Homo sapiens: one gene and its partners. The protein of the gene in region 2 purifies or fractionates together with the protein of the main gene of each other region. This does not show direct contact. Each region holds a gene or a part of one and is shown on either strand. Other genes may lie near its edges.

Region 1 (3,500 bases), on a different chromosome or scaffold from region 2:
CCACGTTTTGTAGGTGAGCAAATAGATACAGAGACAGTAAATGACTTGTCAGGGCTGGATGCAGTGGCTCACGCCTATAATCCCACCACTGTGGGAGACTGAGTTGAGAGGATTGCTTGAGGCCACAATTAAGCAACATAGTAAAGCCCCATCTCTTTAAAAAAATAGAAAAATTAGCTGGGCATGGTGGCATGTGGCATATAGTTCTAACTACTTGGGAGGCTGAGGTGGGAGGATTGCTTGAACCCAGGAGTTTGAGGGTACAGTGAGCTATGATTATGCCACTGCTCTCCAGCCTGGGCAGCAGAGAGAAACCCTGTTTCTTAAAAAGGGGAAAAAAAAGACATCAAAATTGATTCAAAATAAGGAGTTGGTAGGGAGCTGAGTGGGGAGGGAAATAATGTGTAATTGGTTGTGAGTTAATAATTGTTGAAGCCTGGTATGGGTACATCGGAGCATTGTATGCTTCTCCTTTCTATCCATTTGAAATTTTCCATAATAAAAAATTAAGATAAAAAAGCTACATCGAAGGCCACAGTTGGTTGCAGATGAGATTTCGCGCCAAAGGTCCTTGCAGGATGTCAGAGACACCCAGGTGCTCGGGCAGATTTTGACCAGCTCTCTCTTGCTGACCTCCCCAGGCATCCTGATGCTGGATATGGCCAGGCATTACTGCGTTCTGGTCTCAAGGCCATGGTGAGGAAATAATGAAATCCTTAGAGACCAGGGCCAGGTAGAAATCTTGGTTAAGTTCCTACTTTAGTCCTATAGGGAGGCCTTGAGCAAGCAGAGATCTCAGGTTTCTGAAGGGAAAATACTCCAAACCTAAGAGGGTTTTGTTTCATGTGTGTTCAAGATACCCCAAGGATATGGGGTCAGTGGTCCTGCGGCTGCTGCTGGGAGCCTACGATTTGCTGCTGCTGGGAGCTTTCTCAGGGGACATGGGCCCTCCTCTCCCAACCTGCAGTCACCAGAGGTCTCATTCCATCCCTGGTTTTTTCATTACTCCTGAGTGCTGGGAGAATTTTAGAAATGAAGAAAAATTAGCTCAAATGAAAAGAGCTGGGTGTGGCCGGGTGTGGTGGCTCACGCCTGTAATCCCAGCATTTTGGGATGCCAAGGTGGGCGGATCACCTGAGGTCGGGAGTTCGAGACCAGCCTGACCAACATGGAGAAACCCTGTCTCTACTAAAAATACAAAATTAGCTGGGTGAGGTGGCACATGCCTGTAATCCCAGCTACTTGGGAGGCTGAGGTGGGGGAATCGCTTGAACCCGAGAGGCAGAGATTGCGGTGAGCCAAGATTGTGCCATTGCACTCCAGCCTGGGCAATAAGAGTGAAACTCTGTCTAAAAAAAAAAAAAAAAAAAAGAGCTGGGCGTGGTGGTGTGCATCTGTAGTCTCAGCTACTTGGGAGGCTGAGGTGGGAGGATCGCTTAAGCCTGGGAGGTAGAGGCTGCAGTGAGCTGAGATTGTGCCCCCGCTCTCCAGCCTGGGTGACAGGGTGAGACTCTGTCTCAAATAAGTAAATAAATAAATAAAAATTAAATTTTTTTAAAAGAAGACTTCTTATCTCCCAAGGTAATGAAGAAGAAAATGGGATGTTGCTTGTCAGATGCCTCCTTGGCAGTGACTAGCAAATAATGGTGGCTGCCACTCTTATTGCTGTCATTCAGTGTTAGGATAATGCTGATGGGCAGGAGCTAGCAAGAGTACTAGCTCCTCTCTTGCCTGGGGCTTGTTATTCATTTGGCTTTCCTGAGGGCCAGCTCTGAATTGGTTTAGGTTTGATCTGGTTTATTATAAGGTAGGCCTACCTGTTCAGAACTTGAAACTTGGCCCTGGTGTTACTCAAAAAAACAGGAAAACTGACATTGGCCCAAAGCACAATTTATTCCCTGAGTGTACCAGCCTAATGAGTATTTCCTGGGCCTCTCCCTCCCTGTTTCCTTGGACAGTAGCCTATTCCAGGTGTCAATTCCTCATTAAAAATGGTGCCTGCTGTCATCACAAGCTCTCAAGAGAATGGACCACATGTGCTATTTATGTGTGCCTTACACCTGACCAGTCGGCACAAATTTCTGGGCTGGTTCATCCCTGTTTGTGAAGCATCTGTGCATTCAGTCGTTGTTCGGTGCTGGAGCCCAAGATGCTCTGGGCTGAAAGGTACCTCCTGTTTTGGCAGATTCCAAGCTACTCCCTCTTTCTCCTTCCCCATGTGCAGGCCAGGCTACCAACGTCTTTGTGAACATGGAGGAGGACTTCATGAAGCCAGTCATTAGCATTGTGGACGAGTTGCTGGAGGCAGGGATCAACGTGACGGTGTATAATGGACAGCTGGATCTCATCGTAGATACCATGGGTAGGAATTGACTCTGAGAGGCACCTAGAGGCAGTTTTATGGGTTCAACTGGAAGGGAACTGGCCTTGGACATGTCAGTCTTGCGGTGGGTGATGTTGAAATGCCAGGTGGAAGGCCATTTCCCATTACATCCGTCTACCCCGACCTTGATTATTCAAAGGGTGGGGAGCTGCACGTGGCTGTGACCCCTCAGAAGCCTGAGCCTACCTGGGTTTGGGGGCCCTTAGGTATGATTAAAGAAAAGAACACCACCTGTCTCTACCACAAAACTTAGACATTTTCCTGGTTATTGGGCAAATGCGCTGTTTAATTAAGGGAGAGCCTCATTTTTGTGCGACATCACAGTCGATGTTGACCACTGCAGAGTGAATTAAAACTAAACCCTAATGACTGTAACCCTGAAGACCCAGGGGAAATGGTCTTTGTGGAATCCTGACTCCTGCCCTATCACCTACCACCTGTTTAATTTGCTCACTTCCAAATTAAATAGGGCCTGGTGGAGGCTCAGAGACAGGTTCTCTGAACTGGCAGGGTAATTGAGGCACAAGGTCTGACGGATGTGACACGCCTCGTGAACCAGAAGGATTGAATATTTTTGTGATGGGTAAACAAGAGACACCAAGGACAATTTGGAAAGCTGCTGCATTTCTCGATGAACATCCCAGGTGATCCTTATCACTATCTCGTTCACGACATCTCTCAGTCCTCCTCACAGGCCTGTCTGCCTCCAGAGGTCCCCAGTTCCCTTCCTAAAGAGCAGATGGCGGTGAGAGATGCAGAGGCAAAATCAGTCAGGCTTTGCAGCTGTTAGGTTTCTCCCAGCAGCCTAGGTTTCACTGGGAGTCAGAAATGCAGATGCTCAGGCCCTACCCTGATCTTCTGAATCAGAATTTGCATTTTAACAAGATCCTGAGTGAGTTTCATGCATATTGCAGTTTGGGAAGCACCAACTTTTAGGACCTAGACTTTTTTCCTATTCTATCCAGCTGTTAATGCCAGGCCTTTCTCTTTGTCCTTCTCACCAGGTCAGGAGGCCTGGGTGCGGAAACTGAAGTGGCCAGAACTGCCTAAATTCAGTCAGCTGAAGTGGAAGGCCCTGTACAGTGACCCTAAATCTTTGGAAACATCTGCTTTTGTC
Region 2 (2,888 bases):
CTATGTCATTGTCAGTGGGTGTCTGCTTGTGACTCAGGTAGGGAGAAGGATACCAAGTTTCTTTTTTTTTTCTTTTTGAGACAGTCTCACCCAGTTGCCCAGGCTGGAGTGCAGTGGCGTACGTGATCTCAGCTCACTGCAGACTCCATCTCCCGAGTTCAAGCAATTCTGCCTCAGCCTCCCAAGTAGCTGGGATTACAGGCACACACCATCATGCCCAGCTAATTTTTGTATTTTTTGTAGAGACAGGGTTTTGCCATGTTGGCCAGGCTGGTCTTGAACTCCTGACCTCAAGTGATCCATCTGCCTCGGCCTCCTAAAGTGCTGGGATTATGGCGTGAGCCACCGCACCTGGCCAGGACACCCAAGTTTCATCCCTTCTGAATGCACTGCAGCTTCTGAGAATGGGTAGCACTTATTGAAGACCTACTGTGTGCCAGGCATTCTCCACCTGGGGTCTCATTCCTGGCCACAATTCTTAGAAAGTACACAGCCTCAACTTTTACATTTTTTAAAAGTTTTTTATTTTTCAGTTTTTGTAGAGATGAGGTCTCACCATGTTGCCCTGGCTGGTCTTGAACTCCTGGCCTCAAGCCTTCCTTCCGCCTCGGCCTCCCAAAGTGCTGAGATTACAGGCCTGAGCTGCTGTATGGCTATGATTTTGTTAAAGGCCGACACAGAGGTGAAGTCAACTGCTAGAAATCACGGCTTTTAAGAGGTGGAGTCACATTTGAACTCTGGCCTCTGATGCCAGATCTGCAGGTCACATGTTCACCATGGTCCAGGTGACCCTGACTGCGGTCCCCACCTCTTCTGTGAGGCACAGGGCAGGATTCCACCTGAGGCGCGAGGAGCCTGGGACGACTCCTTTGGTCTCTTCTGGGGTTCGCAAAAACCTGGGGGTCCCGGGTGTGAAGAAGGGTGTCTGCGCTCTCAGCGGTCAGGCTCCAGGCGCTGCGACAGGACGCCGAGGACGCGCTGGAACTTCTCAAAGCGTTCAGCGCGCGGAGCTCCCGCGCCCCGGCTACCCCAGAGCAGCCTCCGCACGAAGCCGGTGGTCAGGGCCTCCCTCAGCTCCGGGTTAGGCCGGAATCCTGGAAGCAAGGTCAGGTGGGCTGGGGGCGGGGCCCAGGCGCCCGCCTCGCCCCTCCCAACCTCCCGGCACCTTCCTTTCCCCAGAGGACTTTGACCCAACAGGGGCCCGGGAGGGACCTGCCCCACCTGCGGGATGACTAGGCGGGGTCAGAGGGGAGGGGGCTTCCAGCTCTCTGCAGGAATGGGGGTGGGGTGCCTGAGGGGCTCTACCGCAGTGCAATGGGGTGGCCTGTTCCAGGTGCCAGATCCTGGAGGTCCCGCCTTAGGGGCTGTGCCTGGACGTGGGGCTGCCCCGAGGACGGGATCCCAGGTTGTCGGGGAAGGTGGGGGGATCTTGCCGGGTGGGCTGCCCTAGGATAGGACGGAGGAGTCGTTTTGGAGGGAGCAGGGCGTTCTTGGGGATCGAGATCCCTGGGGGACGGGATCGTCTTAGGTGGGAAGGGGGAGTGGGGACCCGCGGAGGTGGCTCTGGGGGCAGGACAGCCCGTTTTGAGGTGGACGGCCCTGTTCCTATCAATACCGCTGGATGCAGCGTTTGCTTGGGGTGAGAACCTTCCTGGAGTGGAGCCGTCCCAGTTTGGGTGGGGCTCCGGGAGGCGTGGCGAGAGGCTCCCCTCCTGGGACAGGCTGGGTTTGGGGGATCCGGTTAGAACCTGCAGGGTGCTCTGAAGTCTGCAGTCCAGCGCAGAGGGAACGCTCACCTCGCAGGCGCTGGGCTGCCACCTTGCGGAATTTGGGTGCGTCCCGGACCATGTGACGCGCCCCGTGCAGGGTGCGCAACAGCCGCTCACAGCTCTCGTCCAGCGGCCCCGCGACTTCCTCGCCCTCCAGTAGGCGAACCATGGGTGCCACGTGCGGCAGCGCCACCTCGCCGGGGTCGCAGGGTCCTGCGGAGGGGGAGGGTCTGATCAGGGTTTGGGGCTGTAGATGGGGCATAGGGCAGAGGTGGAACCTAGGACAAATGCAGGGGCGGGGCTTAGGACTGAGCGACAGCGGGGTCTGTGGAGAGGGGCCAGGACCACACGCCCCGTATGGAGGGCGGGGCCTATGGCGAAGGGGCGTAGCCTAGGGAAAGGGGCTGGGACCAAGGCTGGTGGGGGCGTGGCCTAGGAACAAGTCTCGTGTGGAGGGCGGGGCCTAGGGAAAGGGCCAGGACCAACCCTCATGTGGAGGGCGGGGCCTATGGTGAAGGGACCGGGCCTAGAACAGATGCAGGGACTGGGCATAGGACTAGATTGAGTCCTGTTAAATTTGGTCTGGGCCCCCAGGGGATGCTAAGCCCCAGACCTTCACTTACCAGCGCCCTCATCCAGAGCCCGCATCAGCGGCTTCAGCTCCTGCTCAAAGGCCAGCGCAGCCTCCGTGTGGCTCCTTCGGAGCTGGCGCCACGTGTGCTCCAACCGGGACACCTGGGAGAAGAGATCTGAGCACGCCTCCTCTCCAGTCTTCCCAGTCACCCGCACTCCAGCTTCCTCCAGTCCCTGCTCCCCACGAACCTGGGGCATGAGCAGGGCGCCCATGACTGCAGCCAGCCCGGGCAGGTCCCCCGCCGCCCCTGGCCGCAGCGCCAGCGCCAGCTCTACCAGTCCCCTCAGTGCGGCTGCGCGCTCCTCCAGCGGCCCCGAGCAGCCCAGCACCGCCAGCGCCCCGGCCAGCGCCAGTGTCTGATGCCTGCAGAGGTGGAGGGCAAGGGTCTGGGGGAAGTGGGGAGGTTTGTAATGCAGGGGTGAGGGGGGACAGGAGGTGGCATTGCCCCATCTCCCTTCTTCCCTGGGGAACCATGAGTGGGGAGC
Region 3 (3,500 bases), on a different chromosome or scaffold from region 2:
AGGCTTGGAGAGGCTCAGAAACTTGATTAGATTATACAACTTGCAAGCAGAGAAGGAGGGCTTTAAATCTAGCATGTCCTGTGTCAAAACCTTTATTTGTAATCATTAGAACATGCTATCGTGGAAAGCTAGCTTCAAAGTTATCTGTTGTATCCTTTATTAAATCTTCGTAAACTAGACAAAAATATCATTGACCTGAAGACATAAACTTTGCTTCCTTCATTTCTAGTCTACAGCAGAGGTTGGCAAACTTTTCTGTAAAAGTCCAGAGAGTAAATGTCTTAGGCTTTGTGGGTTAAAAAATCTGTTGCAACTACTCAGCTCTGCGGTGGTAGCATGAAAGCAGCAATAGACAATGCATAAATGAATGAGTGTGGCTGTATTTCAATAAAACTTTATTTACAAAACCAGGTAGTGGGCTGGATTAGGCATACAGGCAGTAGTTTGCCAACCTCTGGCCTAGAGCAAGAAGAGCTCTCTTTTCACTGATATGACCAGCCATATGATCCTAAATTTGCCCCAGGGATTTTTTTGGTGTGTGTGTGTGTGTGTGTGTGTGTGTATGTGTGTGTGTCTTACTGAACAGTGTCACCCCTGAAGTTAAATGATGAAATAAAAATTCTAGACTGGGCACAGTAGTTCATGCCTATAATCCCAGAACTTTGGGAGGCCAAGGTGGAGGATCGCTTGAGCCCAGGAGTTCAAGACTAGCCTGGGCAACATAAGGAGACCCTGTCTTTGCAAAAAATTTAAAAAAAATTTAGCTGGGCATGGTGGTGCATGACTGTAGTCCCAGCTACTTGGGAGTCTGAGGTGGGAGGATCGCTTGAGCCTGGGAGGTCAAGGCTACAGTGAGCCGTGATCATGCTGCTGCACTCCAGCCTGGAGGACAGAATGAGACCCTGTCTCAAAAACAGACACAAAAACAAACAAAAAATACAAAGAAACAAAAACAAAACAAACTAACAAAAAAACTAGCAAAGGTCAGAAGATGGCCCTGATGTGTCCACATTACTCTTTGTCACCTAGACAATGTGTGTTTTCTGTGCAGGAATGTGTGCAGCTGTTTCATCATTCAATAAACATGTAGTTGACAAATCTCTCTTGCCCAGCCAGATCTGAATAATAGTCTGAGCTTTTGTTTTGGCAGAACCACACAGGAGAAATTTTCCTGCTTAACAATGGCGCTGGACTTTTTCCAGAAAGCAGGACAGCTGGTTTCATACAAGTGCCAGCCTTTAGAATCCAAGATCAGAGAACAACTCAGAGAAGGACTCTTATAGACAGTCTAGTTTAATCTCCTCATAGGTAGTGAAACAGAGATCCAGAGAGGGGAAGTGGCTTCTCCCAAATGTAATCTTCTAGTAGGCAAGGGAAATAAAAGAGGAAACATGAGGAAAGTGGAGCAACTCCATTTCTTATTCATACATACACATCCCTACATCTACTATTAGACTACTGTCAACTCCTGTCTGGTATAAAGCATGTTGGGATTTTATTCAAATGCAGATCCTGATTCAACTCGTTTGGGAGTGGGGCCTGTGTTTCTAGCCAGGTGGTAGTTGATGCCGATGCTGAAAAGTAGACTGCACTTTGAGTTGTGAGGGACTAGGTGCCTGAATCCACCATAACTAGGTTGGGGGAAATAAATCAAGAGTCCCGCTTCCACCATTTGATGGGGCTTGCAACTGAGTCACACTGCTGGCACCTGGTGGGCCAGAAATGAGGCTGAGTGCTTATGTGGCTTCCAAGGCACCCTCTACATCTTTTGTTGTTAAGCACTTAAGATTGAGCTTCTTCCTGGGTTCTGCCCATAGACACAGTCTGTATCCCGCCTGGTAATTTTTTCCAACACTCCAGCTTCCATCTAAGACTCCTCTCTGGAGACTCTCCCTTCCTCAAGGCTGGATCTTGTTGCTCATGTGTTTAATGTGAAGTAAGGACTTGCACATTTCTATCAAGTCTGTCTCTGTGCCATGCAATCAGGATTTTTGTAATAGCAGATCTACAACAACCTCATGTCGTTAATGGCCACTGTCCTAAATTTTTTGCCCCAACCTACTTTATTCATCTCACATGAATTTGCTCCTGACCATCCTGGTTTCATACCTCATTCCCCTGGTTACAGCTTGCCTCACTCTTTATACCTGGTGTGCAGCCCTGCTTTTCTAGCTATAATTGATTCCTTTTCTGGTCAGTGATTTGAATTTTTTCCCTAGTTAAGTAGCCTCAGTGAACAACCTCCCAGTCTGGTCCAGCCCTAATATGCTTTGCCTCTATGCATTCTCTTGGGATTTTGATGGACTTGTCCTGATGCTGTGGTGAATAGTGTCTGTCAATGGCTGGAATCATGATGTGATTGTATTAATCTCAAAATGCCTTGAATATGTGTGTCAGCCTGACTTGGACCATCTCCTGTGGCTTGGACTTTCCTCATTACGTCAACCTGACATGATGAACTTTCTCTTCTTCTTTATCCCTAGTTTTAATACCTATGATAACCACATCTAAGTCTGACACCTCATTTGGTATCTTGGCCTGCCCATCCAGTTTCTCTCATAAGCCCCAACATCTGTCCTTGTCTTTGCTGGTCCTGACTTTTTTCTTCCATCCACTTATCCTGATTACAAGAATCCAGCATCCTCTTGCCTGGGTCTGCCTTCATATGACAGGGTGTCCTGTGCTACGAAGAGCCAGTTCTAACCAAGAAGAGGCATCACTGATAAATAAATCTCAACAGCTTTCAATGTCAATGAAAAATTTCAAGCTGTGTTATAAACTTGTCAATTGCAACATATTTTAACAGCACATAATTGGTCTGAAAAATATAACAATTAGCCTGAAAAATATATTTTATCGGCTTTCACAATGACTACCACTCAGGGTTTCAGGAAAACAGGCCACTTTTGTCATACCTCCCACTTGAAAAATTCATCATATAGGCCACAAGACACAATTGATTTTCATGTGGCTCAGACACAGATCCTTGATTTTTGATCTGGAGGGGATGGAAAGGATCATTTAGCTTTAGCTTTCATTTTCCAGATAGAAAACTAAGGGCTTGAGTGAGTAATAGTTATGATTATACTAACATATGACATTTATTGACAGTGTATTATGTACCAGGTACTGTTTGCTCTAAGCCATTTGAATACATACATTCATTTTAATACTCACTGTCTATGAAGTAGGTATCATTAATATCCCCATTTTGCAGAATGGAAGCTGGTGCAAGAGTGATTAAGTGAACTGTCTGAGATCACACAGTTGATTAGTGGAGGGAATGACTCAGACCTGGATCATTCAACCACAAATCCAATATGCTCCTCTCATTTTTTAATACTTACCCCCTTGGAGCCTAGATTTCTCTTTCTGCTTGTGAATTCCATAGAGGGACAGGAGGGACAATTCTGACAATTCTCTCAACTTAGTCATGGTGTCCTCAGTGGCCCAGGAGGGTAAAGTGAAATTGTGAACACTCTGTAGCAAAGAAAAAGGAA
Region 4 (4,136 bases), on a different chromosome or scaffold from region 2:
CTTTACAGAAAGGGAGCTGGACTCCCTTACACAGCTAGTAAGTGATGCTGTTGGGACTCCCCAGCCTGACTCAGAAGCTGAGCTCTATCTACCTCCCCTGCCCTACTGATGACTCCACCTTTCCCAGACAATGAGTGTTCCTGGAACGTTCCACTGAAGGAAGCTTCACCCACAGGAACGCAGGTCATCTGGGAATGTGGGAGGCATCTCAGCTCTCAGTGCCTGCCGGCTTCCCTCTGCCCCAGCACTCGGGGGCTGTGGTGCACCAGCGAGTGGCCAGGCTGTGTAACCGCATCCCTGAGGAGCATGCAGTCCCGCAGGGGTGCGGTAGGTCTCAGGTGCAGCATTTGTAAGCAGCTCCCTGGCTGGTTCTGATTTTGCTGCATTGAGAAGCCTCTGTCTCACTTCCCACTCTAAGGTTTTAGAAAATAAGTGTTCTGGGAATCGGAGCCCTGGCTATCAGTGTGGAGTCCTGGAGCTCCAGACCTCCTGCTGAGAAGGAAGGGTCAGCCTCAGGCTCCTGCAGGGTCTTGCCCAGGGCCGTGCTAGTCCAGACAGGCACATTTTCACTGAAAAGGTGACTCAGACCAGCCTGTGACTACATCTATTAATATAACTTGTTCTGTGACAGGCACAGGGGAGCTGCCACGCCTTGGCCTTCCCCTGCTACGTGGCTGCCCAGAGGCCTGGGAGATGGGTTTGTCTCTATGAGAGACACAGAGGAAAAGGCAACACCAAAAAGAGAGGTGCAGATGGACCCTGCCTGCAGACAGATCTCTCTCCAGTGGCTCCCTCATCTCCTCCCATCGCGTTCCTGGCCCAGCTTTGTGCCTAGAGGACACTGGGTCTTCGCTAGCAGCTCAGCTGTTGCAGGTGGGGTCTACCTGTGAACTTGCTACCCCTAGCCAGCTCTCACATGGGGTATGGACGACCAGGGTATGGTTTTGGCCCTGGAGTCAGGCTGTTCAGATTCTCACCTAGACTCTCACACTTACTAGTGAGTTCGGGCACCTGCCTAGCCTACTTGTGCCTCAGTTTCCTCATCTGTGGATAAGGATACTGGTGTCTACTTCATAGACTCCTTGTGAGGTTCAAGGGAGATATTGAATGTGAGGTGCTTAGAGAAGGGTCCGGCCACAGAGTAGGGACTCAGTGAGTGTCACAGTGATCCTGTCAATTTGGCAGGTCCCTACATGGACAGCCCTTTGTCCTGCTGCACTGGGTGCAAGGCCCAGTGCCAGACTGCCTTGGCCAGCAACTGACTTTGGAAACCACCCAGCACTGGGCTCTCCCTGCCATGTCCACCTCCTCAAAGGCAGGTTCCCAGCAGTCTGGTTGAAGCTGCAGGCCTCCATGGCCCCTTGTCCTGGAAGAAGGCTGCTTCCCTGGGGGCCAGGACAGCTGCCCCACCTCAGCCTGGCTTCCTCTTTGTCCCACCTGTCCAGAACCTAGCATGTCTGACCCTGAGGACACTTGCTTGGGTTGCGACATCTATGATCCAGAGACTCCCTGAAGCTGGACAAGCCTGGGTATCCCACAAAAGCTCACAGAGAACCTGGGGCTGGGCAGAGAGACCCAACTGCTCTCTGACTGGAGCCTGCTGGCCATTGGACCCTAGCAAGTCACTCAGTGTCTCTGAGCCTTCATTTCATCATCTGCAAAACAGAAAGTGCAGCCCTGACATCCTGAGGCTGCCTGGGAGGAAAGGAAAAGGGTGTGCAGAGCCGGCAGCCGGGAGATGTCACCTCTGTCCCCTTCTGGATATTCAACTCCTTAGCACAGCGATGGCCTCAGGCTCAACCATAGATGGAAAGCTCCCGAGAACCCATCAGTTCTGCTGGGGATGGGCTGCCCTGAGCCCCGGGTTCCTCCAGGCTCTAGCAGGCCAGGTCCTCCTGCTTCCCCTCTTCCCTCTCCAGTCTTGACAAATGAACATCATTGATCCCTGAGGTGAAGGCATTGATGGGTCCCCAACAGCAGGTTCAGGTTACTCTCATGCTCAAAGCCCTTCAGTGCCTTCCCACTTCTCTTAAGGTAAAGCCTAACTCCTCAGCCTGCCAGGCAAGGCCTTTCAGGACCTGGCCCTGCCTGCTTCCCCAGGTCCATCTCCTCCGGTACCAGGACCCTTGAGCTGTGCTGAGCAGCTTCCCTCGAAGCCAAGCTCCCTGCCCTCTGACCCTCTGCACACAGTTCCCTCTGCCAGGAGCAGTATGCCTGATTCTCCCCAAATGCACACGTGTGTGCACCCCATACACATTTACACACAAGGCTCAACCATGATACCCCCTCCTTTGAGTGGCCCCACCCCTGCAAGGGTCCCTCCCCTGGACTCTTCTCAAACCTCAGCTTCCCCCTTGCATTTCTAGATTTCTTCATCAGCCTGTCTCCCGGCCCAGGTCCCATCCCTGCCGTGGGCACTCTAGGCCTGGGACTGTTTCTTCTCGGCCCCTTCCCACCCTCCATGCTTGGCCCAGGAGGCAGCCAAATGTAGACTGAGCCACTCCCAGCCAAGGGCGACTTTACATTTCTCAGGACTCCCTGGTGACCAGCACCCAACACCATGCAGGAACCCAAATCTCCTGCCAGCTCCCACTTACCCAGGATTTCCACCAGGCCATCTCTTTCACCTCGGGGGCACCTTTCCCAGGGAGATGAAGAGACACAGGTTGGCCTCTGCTGGGACTCCACACGTCTGGCTCCTGCAGCTGAGGAGTGAGCAGGCCGCTCACTTGGGTGTGGGGGTGCAAGCCCGCCCAGGGCAGCGCCACACCTGCCTGCCGTCCCCTCGCCCCCGGGCTCTGCCTGGCTTTGGGCATCTCCTGTGGCTCCCAGGCCCCACCCAGACACTGCCCAGGCCTGCTCTGGGGAATTACACAACTCACTGGCAGATATTTGGGCTGTGGCTGTTACGCATACTGGAAATTCTTAGCTCCAGCCTGCGAAAGCCCCACTCAGTAAACACAGCTCCATGTTGATTAGGCTGGTCTCAAACTCCCGACCTCAGGTGATCTGCCCACCTTGGCCTACCAAAGTGCTGGGATTACAGGCATGAGCCACCGCACCCAGCCCATTTTCATCACTCCTAATAGCCATGGAGTATGCCATTTAATCAACTGCATATGCAATATTATTTTTTTTTTCCGGGGGCAAGGGGCTCATATTCACCACAGATGGGAGGCCAGTTGGTGAGAAGGTGGCAGGCGGCACAGCCACCTTATACAGCATGCCATACTGGTCCACTGTCAGACCGGTGATGGCCTCAGCTCCATCACCCCCCAGGCTGACTCTGGCTCCTGCCTGGCTCTGCCCGGCCACCACAACCCCTCGGGACCATTCAGAGGCATCACTGGAGGATGTGTGGTTAGTGGAGCAGCTGGTCATGGGGAGGTCTCGTTTCTTTGGTGGAAGGCATTCCTGGTTCCTCTCATGAACAGGTTTCATATTGCTTTGTGGTGTTCCTGGAGCCTGGAAGGAGTTGGCTTGCTCCCTGGGGCATCAGGAGGGGCTTCTCTGTAGCTTCTCTGAACCCCTCTCTGCTTCTGGCTGGGGCACCTACATCTGAGCTTCCAGTGGTGCTTCTGAGCAGCTGTAGTAAGCGTCCTCCCGGCTGGCTCGGGAGCCAGCCCATTTCACCACGCTTCCCGGGATCCACCCGCTCATCCTGGAGCCGCTGCAAACCTGGCCGCCGCCATCCCCAGCCCCGGAGCTGCCCCATACCCCTGTATATGCAATATTTGTTAACCATTCCCTTTTGGTGCCCATCTAGGTACAGGTATCATTTTTGGAGCTAAAGTATCTATAATACACTGGAAGTAACAGATGTCACCTCCATATTGTACGCCAAACCTAATAAGCAGAGCAAAACTTTTCATCCAAGCGATTTGGTTAACATTTTAGGATGTTTCTAATCTCTCAGTAATACAAATATGCTACAATAGATCTGTGTGTTTATCCTTTGGGCACCTGTGTGTGCCTGTGCATACCTGGAGAATAAAGTCCTGTGAGAGGAACTGCCATCCAAAGAGGGTGTTTCAGTCTGTACTGCCACCAACAATGTGCTTGTGCTTCTGAGCTTGCGTTTGGGTCAGGAGAATTTGAAAGTCATCAGGAACCAAACCAGGATATAAGGTTCAGCT
Region 5 (4,027 bases), on a different chromosome or scaffold from region 2:
GTTAGTTAAGATTTAACCTGCATATGTTGCCTTCTTTACTAAAATCAGACTCATAAAGAAATGTATTCTGGCTTCAGCCTTGTTGGTATTGCTCTACCTCTATTTGTTTCCCATGCTATTGCTTCATCCTTGTTTCTGCAGAACTAGGATTTTAGCTCAAAGTCACCTAAAAGCCTCCACAGGAAACTACATTCCAAAGGGAAGACTCCATGGGAAGAGCAATAGAGAAAGAAGTTACTTTTAAGTCTTTGGTAATGTTCACCCAACCCAGTTTTCATTTTCTCTCAATGGACAAGAACCCTCAACTAATAAAGCTAATGAACTTACAGGAAGGTAATATATGGAAATAAACATCTTATTGAATTTATCTGGCTCTAAATCTCTTTTGTTAGGGAATTTATAGTATTCCATTATCTTACAATCTCTCCATTTCTATCTACTTGATTAAACTATGGTGCTATAGCAATGGAGGTGAAGGCCTAATTTAGAAGTATAGGAATTAGGTATGGCGCGGTGGCTCATGCCTGTAATCTCAGCACTTTGGGAGGCTGAGGTGGGTGGATCACTTGAGGCCAGGAGTTTGAGACCAGCCTGGCCAACATGGTGAAACCCCATCTCTACTAAAAATACAAAAATTAGCTGGGCGTGGTGGCAAGCACGTGTAGTCCCACCTACTCGGGAGGCTGAGGCAGGAGAATCGCTTGAACCCAGGAGGCGGAGGCTGCAGTGAGCCAAGATCGTATCACTGCACTCAGCCTCAGTGTAGGCTGAGTGATAAAGCGAGACTCCGTCTCAAAAAAAAAAAAAAAAAGGAAAGGAATTATTCTCATGTATACAATAGTAGGAAACAACCTATAAAGCTTTTGAGAATCTTATAATTCACTGTGTACCTCCCTCTGTTTCATATTTTCGCAATTGAACTATAGAGCCTAGGCCTAGGTCTTAAGACTTTTCTTGTAACCTTCAGAGTGCCCAGCACTGGGATTGACATATACCAGTTAGACGGATTTTTTTTTCCATAAACCAGGCTCAAACTCTTCTAAACCAAAATCAACATATTCTGAGTGCCAATCTTGGGTAAGGCACTCTATTATTTGTCATGAAGGATTCAGAGGAAAATGTGATCTACCACACTCAACAGCAGGCCTCTTATCCTCTCCAGCTTAATGCATTTTACCAGTTAAGGACTACCCTGATGCTGAGATTGTGTTTCTTTCCCCAAATCAAATGTCACTCTCTAAGGGTCATCTGTATAATTAAATGCTTTTAATTCTATATATCAAATGATAACTTTTGTGAAAGTAATTTAAACACACTTGAAACATCATATAAAATATTACTACAAGACTTAACCGTAAATGTGGCTCCCACCCCCATAACATCTATACAATATAACCAAAGAGCTAGATTCCAGATTATCAAGAAACTTCTAAATTTTGAACCCATGCAGCAGAATTGTATTCCTTTACATTGTTGGCTCGACTTACAAATGTGCTGTGGAATAATTATCCTCAAATACAATTTTCAGTACTGATTACATAGCTGCCTAAAAGAAAACTGTTAGCCCCTTCCATTTTATGTGAAACCAATGTCTAAAGCGCTCTTGACTCTTCAACCCCACATTTTCCCCACCCTCATCCCTCCTCAATCCCCAGCCCCCACTCATCACATCCACTAGACCTGAACTTTGAACTCAATCATAATTCTTTGTGCCTCTGCTCAAGCCCTTCTTCCTGCCTGGAATACCCTCTTTTCAGTCCCGGCTAATTACATCTACCATCCCATTCCAAGTGGCCGCTGGAAACTCACTTCCTTATGTTCTATGATTTCTTTCACAATTTACACTTTTTTTGTTTTGTTTTGTTTTGTTTGGGGGGGGGGGTTGTTTTTCTGAGAGGGAGTCTTGCTCTGTTGCCCAGGCTGGAGTGCAGTGGCGCGATCTCAGCTCACCACAACCTCCACCTCATGGGTTCAACCGATTCTCCTGCCTCAGCATCCCGAGTAGCTGGGACTACAGGCGCGCGCCGCCACGCCTGGCTAATTTTTTGTGTTTTTGGTAGAGACGGGGTTTCACTATGTTGGCCGGGCTGGTCTCGAACTCCTGACCTCGTGATCCGCCCGCCAAACATTCTATGTGCCAGAAACTTGTATGTAACTTTGCATAGTTCTTGTATTATGTCTCCCCAATTTTGAGTGTTTTCTCTGGTCTCTACTCAGCCCTTGCTCACAGTCTCACTAGGACCCTGGCTAGCTTGAACACGGTCAGAAGGATCACCTTAGATTTCTGCTGGCACAGTATTTTCCATAAATTAATCTCCTGATTGAACCGTAGTCCTATAGTAGTTATCTTTGGATGAAAACCTAATGCAGCTCGAGGAGGAAGTGGAGTGCCTGTGATCAGAGGGCTGGACAAAAGCCCATAGGGCGTCTCTGGAGCCCTGGGGGAACTGTCCCCAGGCAGGCACTCTCAGGGCCCAGGAACAGGGCGGGACAAGTCCGACTCACCTGTGAGGTAAGGACGGGGCCAAGACCCGGAACCGAAAAGCAGGTCACGATAGCGCTGGAAGGCCTCGTCGAGGACTGAGCAGCCGGGCTGCGCGGCCGAGCTGACATCGTACTGGAATTGAAAGTTGTTCGGGTAAAGGACGTAGCGCTGGTCGGAGGTTTGGAAGTTCTGAGGCCAGGGCCAGAGGGCCGTCGCCCGTCCTGCGAACGCTGCCGCCAGCAGCAGCGAAAACCAAAGCCTGGAGCTTGTCATGGCCCGCTGGTCTCCCCTCTCGGAGGGGGCTGGCCACGTGAGACCCTGGTCAGGTGAGCGGCGCCCCCGTGACTTATCGGCGAATCACGTGACCAGAGGCGGCTCTGCGCCTGCGACCCCAGGAGGACCCACACCCTGCCCTTTCACTTCCGGCCTGGACCTGAGGCTCCTGCTACGTGCAGCGGATTGTGCCGGGCGTCGGCAACTGCTCGGCTCGCCAGACTGTTCACGGGCCCAGTAGAGCAGTAAATAACCGGCCACCCCTGCGGCCGTGCCGGCCGTGATGGAACTAGACAGCTCACCCGACTCGAGAAGAACGGGGTGGGGAGGCGAGGACGCAGGGCGACCTGGAGAAGAAAGTTTCCCAGATGGCTCTAGGGTGAATCTTGAATGTTGTGATGCAGCTCGCCAGGCCTACGGGGAGGTAAAGGACTTGCCAGGCTGAAGTAACTTCAGAAGCAGAAAAACGGAGGATTAAAACCACAAGTCGTTGTGATGTGAAATTTCGTGGGGCAAGAAAGGGCCGGAAGTAGGTAGTCTGCACGGCTCTGCTAGAGAGAGGATCACAAGATCACACAAATGTGATCTACTTATGACTGGAAAAAATGTGTACTTTCAGAGCCAGCTTGAGGCATTCCATTGCCTCCAATATGAGCTCTTCCCTTCAAGATTGACTATAAATCTCTTAGTTACAACTCACATCCCCTTTCCCCAGACAAAACCCCACATAGCCCGGTGTGTATTTACTGAAAGCAGTAAGATATTGCTGGGGCTTTGGGTGCAAGATGGAGAGTGCTCAGAGATAATGACAGGGGCCTGGTCCTGCAGGGCCTTACGTAGAAAGTCAAGGAATTTATTCTCTGAGCAATTGAAAATCATCCCGAAAGATCTGCATTTTAGAAATACCATGTTGAGTAGTTGCATAAGAAACCAGTTAGGAGGCCCCTTTTTATTGGAGGTAGAGAATAATGAGAGACTGAACTACAGAAGTGGGGAAGGAAGACAGCTGTAGATCCAAGAAATAGTATCCGGAAGAGAGGCTTGAGAAGTGATCAAGGAGAATTCCACAGTTATCAGAGACCCTGTCTTCCTTGTTCACCACTATATTACCAGAACATAATACAAATAATGCTATTGTTATTGGGTGGCATTATTTGGTTAGTAGGTACTTTTTAAAATTTTTAAATTTAATTTTAGTATTAAAATACATGTAAAGATCAGGAAAATGAACTTTTAAAAATAAAGGGCTTTCACTGGGCATGATAACAC
Region 6 (3,500 bases), on a different chromosome or scaffold from region 2:
CTGGGATTACAGGCATGCACCACCACGCCCGGCTAATTTTTGTATTTTTAGTAGAGACGCGGTTTTGCCATGTTGGCCAGTCTGGTCTCGAACTCCTGATCCTCCCACCTCAGCCTCCTGAAGTGCTGGGATTACGGGTGAGACCCACCACGCCGGCCTAATAATACTTATTTTCAAGAAAGAAGTAGTTAACCTATGGCTGCTTACTTTTTTTTTTTTAAACTACCTAACATTTACATCTACAGTGAGGAAAATGTATAAAAGGCAGATAGATACTGAATTAGCGTCTCCCTCTGCACCTCCCACAAAAAGAACCTTATTACTATTTTGTTATTTATTTACTTATCTAATTTTTTAGAGATGGGTCTCACAGTGTTGCCCAGGCTGGCCTCGAATTCCTGGGCTCAAGTGATCCTCCTGCCTCAGCCTTCAGAGTAACTGGGATTATTTCACCACTGCACCTAGCTTCACTATTTTAAAATAATTTGCATGACTTTTTATGGAAGGGAATTAATTGCTATAAGCAACAAATAATACTAATAGTTTACTATCCAGTTTGTCTTATATTTTGGGATACTTTATCAGTTCTGAGGAGGTAACAAGATCTGTAAATCTTTATCTTTGTTAAACTGAGTGTAAAGAAAATAACAGTGCCAGCCAGGATATAATAAGAGCCAACTGTATAGTCCGGTTTTAGTAGTTCAGAGGAGGATAGATCATTGTAGGCTGAGATACTCCAGAAAGGCTTTGCAGAGGAAACGTGACTCAGTATAAACCAGAAAGGATGGGCAATAGTTTACGCTTAATGAGCTGAGTTTCTTATGTGTCAAGCACTGTGTTAAGCTATAAATGGAGTCTCACAACCCTTCAGCAATGGGATAGATACTATATTTTACATACATGGAAACTGAGGCACAGAGAGGCTAAAGAATTTGGCCTAGGTCATACAGCCAGCAAGTATTGTACTCAAACGCAAGCAGTCTTATTCTAGAGCTTTCACTTTTACCTCCTTACTATACTGCTTCCCTAGAATTCTGGTAGATAAAAGGAAAGAGAAGCACATTTTAGTAAAGAAAGAGAAGTAGGAATACAGAAAACACTTTTGTGAAGATAGCAAGTGGACTATTCTAGCTAAAATAGTTGAGTGGAAAATTCATGAGAGAGAAATTTGGAAAGATAGGTTGAAGCCAGTTTTTTATAGTATTGAATGCCAGGCTATGGGATTTGGATTTGGAGTCTTTAAATGAAATGATCTAATTAGGAAGTAGCAGAGGATCCTACCCTGATGGAGTGGGTTAAAGTTGAGAGCCTATAGATTTTGAGACTCTTTCGAAGATTATTATAGTAGGACTGACAGGTGATGATGGTGTCTTCTGCTATGTTGTGAGCAGCAAGATTAGAAATTAAGTTCTCTATTCCAATGAAGAATTTATTAAGGTAAAAAAATTAAAGAAATTAAGGTATCTAAAATTAATATTTCTTACACAAGTCAAGGTTAAATGAGGAACAAATGTGTATAATGTCTACTCCACCAATCTAAGAACTATGCTATATGAGAGACACATAAAGGGACTAGGGATAAATGAATTGACCTCTGCTGGTGGGATTGTTCTTATTAAATATCTAAAAAGCTATCATTTAAGAGAAGCAGTAGACTTATATGGCATGATTCTGAGGTAACTAGGACTCTTAGGCATAAATCACAAGGAGTATGTATTTCAGCTCAGCTTAAGTAAAGCTACCTAACATTCTACCGAAATGTTAGAGCTATTCAAAACCAAATGAAATGTGGCAAAAGTTGGTAAACTCTGTAGGACAAAAAGCATTGCAGGTTTTTGAAAAAGAATTCCAACATCTGTACAAGTTTGGACTAGATGACTAAAGGTTATTTTCACTACAAGCTTCTTTATCTAATTCAGTATCTAATATTTTGTGAATTAACCTTTTGAATTTCCATAGTGGGGTTGTGAGGGCAGAGGGTACTGTACCATCAAGTCAATTTCAGCATTCCATTATCTTGCACATAAAAATGAAAGAATCTCATAAATAAAATCAACTTGGGGGTTGCTGGAGGAGGAAGAAATTATTTTTGTTTCCTCTGGGTATTAGAATTTTCTTTTTACAGTTTTTATATGTTGAGGCCTAAAATGTTTAGGGGTGAAATATTTTTGTAATATCAGGTTGGTAAACTTCTCATAATGAAAGAAATTAAGGGGATATTCTCATAGATAACTCAGAGGCCAGTAGAAAGAAGCCCAAGAGAAAAAACAGCATAGATAATATTCTAAGTAAAGAACAAAGAGGTTAAATTCATGTAAGGTATGGCTTTCCGGTAAAACATTTATAATTTTATATTTGCTACTTTAGTAAGAATTTTGGATGTGGTATTGTGGCATAGTTTTGTAAGAGTCAGAATATTTCAGTCAACTAAACAATATTTTGTTATGCCAGCAAAATTACAAGTATTTAAGATGCTGTCAGGTAACTGGGGGTACATATTTGGTAATAAGTGCTGCTGATTTTGTTTTTGGGCAGTGAAATCTCAGGGTAATGGTATCATTTTAGGACTTACCTGTTTTGTTCATACAGTTGGCAGGAGACTATTTATACTAGTGCTTTTTCAAGCAAGTTTATCTAAATTTTGAAAGCTTTGGTTATCAGTTGCTTCTTTAAACAATATTTTACTACTCCCCCATTTGTTTTGGTTGCCAACTGGGTAAAAAGCTATCAGATATCTTATTGAGCAGTATATAATTTGCCTCTGAGTTCATATATTTCATCCAAAGGCAAGCAGATTATGTTTCGGCCTGGATAGCATTATATAAAGAGAATGGTCAATTCCACTTGGCATTTTTTGTAATATTGAAAATAGCTCACAAGTAACTCTGCCTCAATCTTAGTGGCCCACCTCTCACAGTATTACTATATCACACTCTATCACACACACTATTAATTTTGAGACCTGCCAAGAGACTAAAGAACCCAGGTTGAAAATCTGGGGGGAGAGGGAGCGAGGAGGAATGTTACATTAAATTAACTGCCAATACTTTGCCTATGATAATGAAGAACTTTCCCAGAGTTGCCCAGAGACTGGGCAAGAAGAAGGAAGAAATGCAAAGACCTGTTCATTACATCTTTGAAATACCTGTAATCATGACTTATTACGTTAACTGTTTATCTATTTGCATTTTTATCATTTATCCCAGGAAAGTGCAGATAACATACTCTCCATTGTTAAACAAAGAACAGGATCTTTTGGGGATCGTCCTGCAAGACCTACTCTTTTAGAACAAGTGTTAAATCAAAAAAGACTGGTAAATATCTGTTTGTAAATCAGTTATAAATGTGTTAACAAACGTTTGTTATAAATGGAACAATTGAGATTTTTGAGATTTTTAGCTCATGACATCACACTATACATCAAAATAAATTCCTAATAAGTCAAAATTTTAAAAAAAGAATCGGAACTTTACCTCAAAAATGTAATGAGATTTTTTTTA
Region 7 (3,114 bases), on a different chromosome or scaffold from region 2:
GAATGTGTAGTTCCTTCAGTGAATATGGCCCTGGGGCTGAAGATGGCAGAAGCATTCTGGGAGCTTCTGGAGAAGGAGACCTGGGAGGAGAAGGTTGGAATGGCGGGGGCAGCAGAGGGGCTGGGTGAACTCAGCTGTCCCACCCAGGCCCATCCTCTGCAGCCCGAGAAGGAAGCTCACAGGGCAAGACATGGAAGAGATCAAGTTCCCTGCCCGGTGCCTGGGCTGTTGATGGCCTCAGGAAAATGGAACCATTACCTGTTGCTGTCAAGTGGCTGGGGGCCAGGATGCCTGGGTTGGCCGTGAGAGGACATTGCTGAGGAGAGTGGAGGCCAGGCTGGGGTGGGGTGTGGCAGGAGGACAGGAATGCAGTGGAACCAGTGGGTCAGGCTCCTGAGGGCCCCAGGCTCCAGCCTCAGGGCTGGCCTGTTCCCTCCTAAGCTGCCATCTTCATATCTTCAGGACCCACCCCTCTACTCCTCACCCTCAGCACAACGATGTGATCGAAAGGCAAATATTTATTTTTCAGGAAGAGAAACAGGAGACCTCGAGGCTTCTGGACTTAGGAGGTCCGGGCAGCTGGTCCATGGTTGTCCAGGTAGTGCCGCAGGGCTGTGGGATAATCCGTTATGACGCCAGTGGCTCCCACGCTGAAGGCTGCTTCAAAATCCGACTCTTCATTAAGGCACCAAAAGACCACCTGAGCAGGGAGGGAGGGGGCCTGTAGATTCTGAACAATTTTACATCTGGAGAGTGGGGACCCACCTCCTCCTCTATGGAGACTCCCCAGCAGCAGTAGGCTGGAGCTGATTGTTAAATTCTCAGGAATTTTGCAAAGTGGTTATTAAACCCAGCCATTATTAAAAATTAAATCATAGCCTGGGTGCAGTGGCTCACGCCTGTAATATCAACACTTTGGGACGCCGAGGCAGGAGTTGAGGCCAGGTGTTTAAGATCGAGTGAGACCTCATCTCTACAAAAAACTTTGTAAAAATTAATTAGCCCGGTGTGGTGGTATGCGCCTGTGCTCCCAGCTACTTGGAAGACTGAGGTGAAAGAATTGCTTGAGCCCAGGACTCTAAGGCTGCAGTGAGCTATGGTTGCACCACTGTACTCCAGCCTGGGCGATACAACAAGACCTCGTCTCAAAAAAAAAAAAAAAATTATATATACTGACAATTAAATTATTTATTTATTTATTTATTTATTTTTTGAGATGGAGTCTTGGTTTGTCACCCGGGCTGGAGTACAGTGGCATGAACTCGGCTCACTGCAAGCTCTGCCTCCCGGGTTCACACCATTCTCCTGTCTCAGCCTCCTGAGTAGCTGGGACTACAGATGTCCGCCACCACGCCCAGCTAATTTTTCTGTTTTTAGTAGAGATGGGGTTTCACCATGTTAGCCAGGATGGTCTCGATCTCCTAACCTCGTGATCCACCCGCCTCGGCCTCCCAAAGTGCTGGGATTACAGGTGTGAGCCACCGCGCCCGGCCCTAAATAAATTATTAAAACAACAAGTGGCCAGGCGTAGTGGCTCACGCCTGTAATCCCAGCACTTTGGGAGGCCGAGGCAGGCAGATCAACTAAGGTCAGGAGTTCGAGACCAGCCTGGCCAACATGGTGAAATCCCATCTCTACTAAAAACAGAAAAATTAGCTGGGCGTGGTGGCGGGCGACTGTAATCCCAGCTACTCAGAAGGCTGAGGCAGGAGAATCGCTTGAACCCAGGAGGTGGAGGTTGCAGTGAGCTGAGATCACGCCATTGCACTCTAGCCTGGGCAACAGAGCAAGACTCTGTCTCAAAAAACAAAACAAAACAAAAAACAAAACCCAAAACAAACAAAAATCCAGTAATAAATATTCAAAGCATATCTCTTGCTAATCAGTTTCCTATTACTGTGTTCTTGAAGTGATTAAGTCTGTTGAGGCTGCAAGATGGAAATACTACATGATGGGGTGCCACCATGCATCTCTTCCCATTCTGCATTTAGTGGCTTCATGTCGGCAGCCTGAAACTGGCCAAGATGGGAGTATTTAAACCAGGAAAATTAATCCTCAAATCAGGGCTTTCATTTGTTCCTCTCTGAGAGCTAGTTGTTGACCACTTAACAGCACCACCCTCCCCCAAACCCCCATTCCACTGCCACCTGCCCCAGCTCCTGCAGCTCTGCCCCTTCCCTGCCCGTTGAGTGGGCACTGAGGTAGGCGGAGATGGGAATTTTTTATTTAAAAATACAGATGAGACGAGGTCTCTCTGTATTGCCAACACTGGAGTGCAGTGGTGTAATCACAGCCCACTGTAGCCTTGACCTCCTGGGCTCAAGTGATCCTCCCACCTCAGCCTCCTAACTAGCTGGGACTACAGGCATGCACTACCATGCCCAGTTAATATTTTATTTATTTATTTATTTATTTTTGAGACAGTCTTGCTCTGTCGCCCAGGCTGGAGTGCAGTGGCGTGATCTCGGCTCACTATAGCCTCCAGCTCCTGGGTTCAAGTGATTCTCGTGCTTGAGCCTCCCAAGTAGAGCTGGGATTACAGGCATGCGCCACCATACCCGGATAATGTTTACATTTTTAGTAGAGATGGGGTTTCACAATGTTGGCCAGGCTGGTCTCGAACTCCTGACCTTAGTTGATCCGCTGGCCTTGGCCTCCCAAAGTGCTGGGATTGCAGGCATGAGCCACTGCACCCTGCCTCTGCATTTTTCTTTTCTTTCCCTTTTCCTTTCCTTTTTCCTGTTTCCCTCCCTCTCCTCCCTCTCCCTGTCTCTGGCTCTCACGCTCTTTCCTCTCTCTCTTTTGAGACAGTCTGGCTATCTCTCCCAGGCTGGAGTGTGGAGTGCAGTGGCGTGATTCTGATTATAGCTCACTGCACCCTCGAAACCCCGTGCTCAGGTGATCCTCCCATCTCAGCCTCCTGAGTGGCTGGGACTACAGGTGTAAACCACTGCGCTTGGCTAATTTTTAAATTTTTTGTAGAGACGAGGGTCTCAGTATGTTGCCCAGGCTGGTCTTAAACTCCTGGGCTCAAGTGATCCTCCCACCTTGGCCTCTCAAAGGGCTGGGATTACAGGTGGGAGCCGTGCCCAGCCTCTGCCTATGGCATTTCTT

Evidence for each region.
Region 1: the proteins of SH2D3A (region 2) and SCPEP1 purify together in Homo sapiens (affinity purification with mass spectrometry; one large-scale study listed by BioGRID and IntAct). This does not show direct contact.
Region 3: the proteins of SH2D3A (region 2) and ACP3 purify together in Homo sapiens (affinity purification with mass spectrometry; one large-scale study listed by BioGRID and IntAct). This does not show direct contact.
Region 4: the proteins of SH2D3A (region 2) and ANXA8 purify together in Homo sapiens (affinity purification with mass spectrometry; one large-scale study listed by BioGRID and IntAct). This does not show direct contact.
Region 5: the proteins of SH2D3A (region 2) and HEXA purify together in Homo sapiens (affinity purification with mass spectrometry; one large-scale study listed by BioGRID and IntAct). This does not show direct contact.
Region 6: the proteins of SH2D3A (region 2) and RFXAP purify together in Homo sapiens (affinity purification with mass spectrometry; one large-scale study listed by BioGRID and IntAct). This does not show direct contact.
Region 7: the proteins of SH2D3A (region 2) and GDPD3 purify together in Homo sapiens (affinity purification with mass spectrometry; one large-scale study listed by BioGRID and IntAct). This does not show direct contact.

What each region holds. Positions count from the first base shown.
Region 1 is NC_000017.11:56,998,631-57,002,130, forward strand, and holds part of SCPEP1 (retinoid-inducible serine carboxypeptidase precursor), read left to right. Parts: intron 1-2,224; coding exon 2,225-2,362; intron 2,363-3,387; coding exon 3,388-3,500. UniProt on the Homo sapiens protein: May be involved in vascular wall and kidney homeostasis.
Region 2 is NC_000019.10:6,751,660-6,754,547, forward strand, and holds the end of SH2D3A (SH2 domain-containing protein 3A), read right to left. Parts: intron 2,790-2,888; coding exon of another isoform or gene 2,767-2,789; coding exon 2,592-2,766; coding exon of another isoform or gene 2,505-2,591; coding exon 2,393-2,504; intron 1,983-2,392; coding exon 1,797-1,982; intron 1,447-1,796; coding exon of another isoform or gene 1,358-1,446; exon of another isoform or gene 1,116-1,357; coding exon of another isoform or gene 1,095-1,115; coding exon 934-1,094; 3' UTR 501-933; downstream 1-500.
Region 3 is NC_000003.12:132,344,907-132,348,406, reverse strand, and holds part of ACP3 (prostatic acid phosphatase isoform PAP precursor), read right to left. Parts: intron 3,481-3,500; coding exon 3,348-3,480; intron 1-3,347. UniProt on the Homo sapiens protein: A non-specific tyrosine phosphatase that dephosphorylates a diverse number of substrates under acidic conditions (pH 4-6) including alkyl, aryl, and acyl orthophosphate monoesters and phosphorylated proteins.
Region 4 is NC_000010.11:47,481,316-47,485,451, forward strand, and holds the start of ANXA8 (annexin A8), read right to left. Parts: upstream 2,801-4,136; 5' UTR 2,706-2,800; coding exon of another isoform or gene 2,619-2,705; coding exon 2,598-2,618; intron 1-2,597. UniProt on the Homo sapiens protein: This protein is an anticoagulant protein that acts as an indirect inhibitor of the thromboplastin-specific complex, which is involved in the blood coagulation cascade.
Region 5 is NC_000015.10:72,373,215-72,377,241, forward strand, and holds the start of HEXA (beta-hexosaminidase subunit alpha isoform 2 preproprotein), read right to left. Parts: upstream 2,801-4,027; 5' UTR 2,759-2,800; coding exon 2,506-2,758; intron 1-2,505. UniProt on the Homo sapiens protein: Hydrolyzes the non-reducing end N-acetyl-D-hexosamine and/or sulfated N-acetyl-D-hexosamine of glycoconjugates, such as the oligosaccharide moieties from proteins and neutral glycolipids, or from certain mucopolysaccharides.
Region 6 is NC_000013.11:36,822,222-36,825,721, forward strand, and holds part of RFXAP (regulatory factor X-associated protein), read left to right. Parts: intron 1-3,206; coding exon 3,207-3,314; intron 3,315-3,500. UniProt on the Homo sapiens protein: Part of the RFX complex that binds to the X-box of MHC II promoters.
Region 7 is NC_000016.10:30,104,310-30,107,423, forward strand, and holds the end of GDPD3 (lysophospholipase D GDPD3), read right to left. Parts: intron 1,148-3,114; exon of another isoform or gene 701-1,147; coding exon 563-700; 3' UTR 501-562; downstream 1-500. UniProt on the Homo sapiens protein: Hydrolyzes lysoglycerophospholipids to produce lysophosphatidic acid (LPA) and the corresponding amines. Shows a preference for 1-O-alkyl-sn-glycero-3-phosphocholine (lyso-PAF), lysophosphatidylcholine (lyso-PC) and N-acylethanolamine lysophospholipids.